2 linked regions of the Homo sapiens genome follow. The protein of the gene in region 1 purifies or fractionates together with the protein of each later gene. This does not show direct contact. Each region holds a gene or a part of one and is shown on either strand. Other genes may lie near its edges.

Region 1 (3,500 bases):
CTTTGGCCTACTACTAACTTGGCTAGTGGTTCTTTAGACATTGGCTGATCACCAGACCTACTGTTATCTGGTAAAATAAACTCTTTGCTTGCTGCGCATGGAATTAGAGACAGTGCTATTAATTTAGGAGAAAGAACTTAGAGAAAGGAAAGGTTATCATATTTCAGAGTAAGAGACCAGCTTAAATACGACTTGACAATTGAGAACTAAAACAAACCTGTGTAAAAGTGCTTTAGCACAATTAACTTTTGCAATCCCCTCAAATCTTCTTTTTTTTTTTTCTTAAAAAGCATTTCTTTCTTATTTTAACCAAATTTAATTGCTCTTGAATGGCTCTGTACTGTACAGGCAAATGAAGCTCCCTATTCATAGAACTTGAGTGCACAGAGTATCAGGGGAAGCTTCCTTCCTCTGTTTGACTGGTAAACTGACATCCGGGCTTAAAGGAGTGAACCTTAGACTGTGTGAGGTAGTTGGCTTTCCTTCCTCACTCAGATTTTCACATAGACTCCCTGAAAGGATGACTGCCAGAAAGAGCAGTAGCTTGCTAATAAGAACTCTAGTGCATTTTCATACTTGGTGCTCTTAGGTAGCTCTGCACAGAAAGAAAAAAATGTAAATATTGAAGTGGTGTCTGTCTTTCCTTTACTTCTGTCTTTAGAGTCTAAGAGTGGAGCTCAACCTACTGCTGACTGTTACTCTTCCTTTTGCATGCAAATGAAACTTCAATTATTTCACTGGCTTTTAGGATAAGTTTGTTGTCTAATTGGGTTAGAGTGCCCTTCAGGATGTGGCATATCTTTATGTCCAGGCTCAAGACCAGCCATTTCCCACCTCCCCAAGCCCATTTCCATTTACCTTGCACTTTAGTGATGTTAAACCTCTTGCCTGTGTTCTCCCCTATCTTTGAACACTCACCCTGGAATGTCTATCTCATTCTCTTCCATCAGCAAACACCTTCTCCTACTTTATACTTCGAAATTTAAGTAAAATATCATAGCTCCAGAAAACTTTTCCTTATATCTCCAGGTGAGCCCTAATACCAAATACATGCTCAGTATGTACAAGGTTCTGTCATATGCACTTTCATAGAGAATCTTATTTAATTGAGACAGTTTTCCTGGAAGTAAGCTGATATCAAAATACTGATTTTACCCATGAGATAACTGAAAAACAGAGAAGTGAAAGATTTTGCCTAAAGTCACACAGCTAGTAAGTAGTAGACCCAGAATTTGAATGCTGCCAAGCTTTCTCCAAGGCCCTTGCTTTTGGCCACTTGTCCATGTTGACTTTGCTGGGTGTTCTAATGCTTCTATACAGCCTCCTAGGCTTATCTTATTATTATGGTGCCCTGGGGCCTAATATTAATGTACACATCATGCAGCTAAACCACAGAAAATACCAGGTCATTGGGTGAATAACTTGACTGCCTTCAAGGAGAAATAAAAAGAGGTTCTGGTAAAAGGTGATGTTAGAATCCAGATAGCTCTTCAGCCTGCACTTAAGTTCAGTGGTAGAGACCATATTACTCTTACCATTTTATGGACAAACCTCAGCCTCAGTGGTAGTGGAGGATTGAAAGGGGAGTTTCTGGGAGCCATCAAATATTAGTTTTGTTCCTTTGATTAACTTAAGGAGAAGCTGACAGATGTATCTGTTAGTATTCAAAGTTCCAGTTGTGGTTGGCTTGGTTTCATTAAGTAAAAGAACTCTTATAGATCATTGCTTGTCCTAATCAGGATCCATTATAAAGGTCATCAGGACTTATTCTACTTTTGGGGATTGGTGTATGGAAGTTCTCTTAACTGTCTTCAGCATAAAAAATGTCAGAGTTGATTATCCAAAAGCTTTTTTGGAGTGTAATCAACTGAGAGAATGTAACATCATTATTTTAAAAATTACTCACTTATGTCAGTCTTCTTCTAGGAGTTCCTGGGTGGGTAGTGACTGTGATCTAGTTTTATTTGTGTCCCCAGTGTCTACCATGGTGACAAAATACACAGCATTGATATAGTAACTATTTAGGTTAATTATATTCTTTTTTTACCCAGAAGACTGGAACAAGATTAAAATTGAGTTAGCTTGGAATGGTGTGAACTGAAAGTTTGAGGACCTCCTCAGATTATGCTGTTGGTAGTGACATGAGTAGTGACTCCTCTTTTTTAAATTCATTTGCTAAAAGTAAATAAATTTCAATTTACCTCTAGCTTTTTCATATGGAAAACAGTTCTGCATTCTCTCCAAAGGTGCCACTGAATATTTGTAGCTACAGAGTGACTATATTACCTCCAAAACTTTGTTTTGTTAATACCTTAAGATATGTAGTGGTATTGACCGTAGCATAAATCATCATTTTACTTTTCTACTAGTGAACAAGAAAGTTTAATCTGAGAATAATATCAATCTGTAAAATCGATCATTGGAAATAGTCCTCTCATATATTCATTATTGAACCTTTCATCTCAGATTGGTATGCTATTGGGGATTAGTTGTCTGACTTTGCTTATTAGCTATTAGAAATAGCAGTTTATCCATATATAATATATATATATATATCCATATATATAATGTATGGATGTGTGTGGGTACATGTGCATGTGTGTATAAATAAAGTGCTTTATGTTTATTTCAATAAACTCATTCTTCAAGTTAGAAAGTAAATTATATGTTTTATGTATATTGGAATTATTATATTATGAAGTACCATCTCCAAACAAGAAATATATAGAGCTTCAAAATGCTTAATAAGATTAATAGACAATAGTTGTAAAATTCTTTTGGAATATAGTTACATAGTTTTTATACTATATTGCTATCCATGGTATATTTTAGTTACACTAAAATCACTGGTATAGGTATGTTTATCTGATTTATTTCATCTAGAACAGAATCCATCTAGAACAGAAAGCATCTAGAACAGAATCCACCACATAGTAGGCATTTGGTAAAACTTTGCTGAATGAAGTGAGGGCGTTGTTGACATTGCTAATGACTTGATTGTCCATAACCTAACCACCTGAGATGTGATATATAGCTATGTGTATCACCTACTCTCAATGTCTATGGAAGTATCTTGAACCAATTTCTGCTGATATTATTGTGATTTCCTGAGACTATCAGTCTCTATTTTGGTTCTAGGCCAACCTATGACCTCTACCCTAAGCACTCTCCCACTTTGTTATTTCTGAAAGTAAAAATCCTCTTTGCTTGAGATTTAGATATTGTCTCCCTCTAGAAATAACTTTCTTCAAGCATTGAAGATTGGGGTAGTTAGCCTGGCATAACATTATAAAGCACACTATACTTATCCAAAACTCAAATACTTATCTCAAAATATTTTTGATGGTATAATGAAAGCAGGAAATACATCTTTTTCACTGATGCAAAACATTCTGGCATCTGTCACCATATCTAGAGGAAAATAGATAGCCAGTAAATATTTTTTGAATGAATGAACTCATAAGCAAGATATTTTCAATAAAGTCAAGAGGACTGGGGTC
Region 2 (2,679 bases), on another chromosome or scaffold:
TACATATGTATTATATATGTGCAATATTACAGTTTTTATATTATTTATAGTTATATGTATCATGTATTATGCAAACGTATAATATATAACAAATATATATTAAATTATGTAATCTTGACATATACATCATAATTTAATGTATATAATGTTAATTGTATATGATTTATACTTATAATATATGTTGCATATATTCACTATAATATATAATGTATAATGTATATTACATATAAACATATAATTAAATATAAAATTTTTCTATTATAATTATAATCTATAAATAATAGATAATATATATTTATGTTTGTACCTGTTTATTAATTATAATAACACCTGAAATTTATTGTACTATATATTGTAAATAAATCTTTCATATAATATAATTATAGTGATATGTGGTGATATGTTAACATATTTTTATTATATAATTATGTTCCTTATATATGTAATACATTACGTGAACATATTTAATATAATTGAAATGATAGGTCTGAAATTCTCCATTGCGAATCGTATCTTTTTATTTGTATATGTATGTATAGGCATCTGTGCATTTCTATTGCTCATTCTAATTATTTCTCCCCATTGAAGTTCACAAGACGGGAGGCCATTTCTCCTCATTCATGGTGCATCAAATCCGGAGGCTTCAGTGCCTGGCACAGTCCCTGTGAGGACAAAATACTTCCTCAGTATTAATAGGAGCATCCCTCCTTTGGGGTTTTCTAATCAGCACTGATGTCAGCGCCGTGTGTACCTGAACTCAAGTCTGCCCTAAACGATTCTACCAGGACAGCTCTTCTATTGCCTCTGTTTCACATGAGGAATTTGGGACACAGGAGGTTTGGGTGAGTCACCGTCAGGCATAGAGCCAGGGGGTGGCAGAACCACCGGGATTTGAACCATGAACCCAGCAATCTGGCTGCAGGAGGGTCTGCCCTCGTGACCTTTATATGTCACTGCATGAAGGTGAGAGAAGAGAGAAGGAAGGAGAAGAAGAGAGGGAGAGAAACAGAGGCAAGATATTCCCGCAGACAGAAGGCTAATAAAAACCAGACACTGGACTTGAACCAGGTCTGCGGGACTCAGGAGCATGTCCCGCTGTGCCCCAGCAGCCCAGGAGCCTCTGAGGGGGTCCGGATGGAGCACGGCATCGCTCCTCCCACCTCCCCATGTGGCTTCAGCCCCTGGTCCCACCTGCCTGAGCTCACAGCCCGAGCCTCACAGGCAGTCACCGGGTCTAGGTCCAAGGACGTACTCTGGGGATAGAAACCCAGGTGGGGAAGGGGCCGCGAATGGCTTATGACCCCGTGTCCTCCCCTGGCAGTTTCTGGTCACAGATCACAGGCGGAGATGGACAACTTGAGACCCAGGGACTTGGGGCAGCTTCACTCCCATCACACAGAGTCCAGGGGCAGAGCCAGAGGCAGCTTCTCTCCCATCACAGAGTCCAGGGCAGAGCCAGATGGAAGGGAAGCCTCATGGCTTCATCCTGGTCACCGTTCACAGCTACGTCCCCTCCCTGTGGAGCCCTCCTCCTCTTAAGGGACCTTACTCCACCGTTCAGGCCTCCCCCGGAGATCACAGAGCCAACAGGAGCAGCCCCGTCCCTCTCCGGGTGTCCCAGGTTGGAAGGTGAGTTCTAAGTCCCTCCATCAGGTGCAGAGCGGGGTGAATGGTGAGGCCACGCCCACAAGGGGGCAGCGTGGAGCTCGGGAGAGCCCGGAAGTCTGGGGTGGGGCTGCCCGGGTGGGTGGCCCCTGCCCCTTCATGGCCTTGTGCCGTTAAGCACGAAACTTTAATTTATGTTTTGCATATTAGAGAGGAGGAGGAGTTAGAGGATCAGACTAGTACCTCCCCCATTAAGTGGTGCTTGCATTAAGTGCTTTCCACAGTTCCTGGCATGGAACAAGGTTGCAATCACTGTACCATTGCTGCTATGGTCTCTGTGAGCATTAGCGACCTCCCAGAGCTTGGTGGGTGTCGGTGCCTTCCCGTGGCCTCCCTAGACCTTGACTCCAAGCCCAGGGCAGAGGGCTGGACCCGGAACAGCATCCGCAGCACAGATTCCCCTGTAATCCCCTCCAGCTGAGGGCCCTGCTACTGACCAGCTGAGGAGCCGGGCTCTGTGTCCGGGGAGTCCGGGCCTCCAGAGCTTTCTGTAAACAGGGGCAGGAGAAGGATTTAGAACCCGTCCCAACCAACCTGCCCTCCTCCACCCTGAGCCCCCATCCAAAGGCCGCATGACCATCACGCAATCCCAGACAATGTCTCGAGACTCCTGAGAAAACGGGGCAGGGGACAGGAGGCTGGGGAGAGCCCCGCTGCTTGCCCCATTCTCCCTGGGGCTGGTCACTCCCTCTGCTCCTCCCACCACAAGCTCTTCTTGACCTCAGGGGACTGCTGAGGTCCTGGGGGGACATGAAGATGGGTTGGATCCTCTCCAGTGGACTTTGACTCCAGGACATCTCGGGCTGAGCACACACAGGAGTGCATGTGGTCACATACCAAAGGTTTTCCCAAAGCACTGTCCCGCCCTGGTCAGGGGCCATCCCTGGACCCTGTGTTCTGCCCAGTGGGAGATGAACCACACCAGGAGAAGCACATTGCCTGGGGCAGGTTCTGGCTCAGTGGAAAGGAATAACAAATGGGACCATCAATCCTGTGTGAAAAGACACTCATCCC

The links. Proteins that work in one complex are often made in the same cells at the same time.
Region 2: the proteins of COL11A1 (region 1) and LAIR2 purify together in Homo sapiens (co-immunoprecipitation; one large-scale study listed by IntAct). This does not show direct contact.

What each region holds. Positions count from the first base shown.
Region 1 is NC_000001.11:103,098,523-103,102,022, reverse strand, and holds part of COL11A1 (collagen alpha-1(XI) chain isoform A preproprotein), read left to right. Parts: intron 1-3,500. UniProt on the Homo sapiens protein: May play an important role in fibrillogenesis by controlling lateral growth of collagen II fibrils.
Region 2 is NC_000019.10:54,508,509-54,511,187, reverse strand, and holds the end of LAIR2 (leukocyte-associated immunoglobulin-like receptor 2 isoform a precursor), read right to left. Parts: intron 2,154-2,679; coding exon 2,103-2,153; intron 663-2,102; coding exon 619-662; 3' UTR 501-618; downstream 1-500.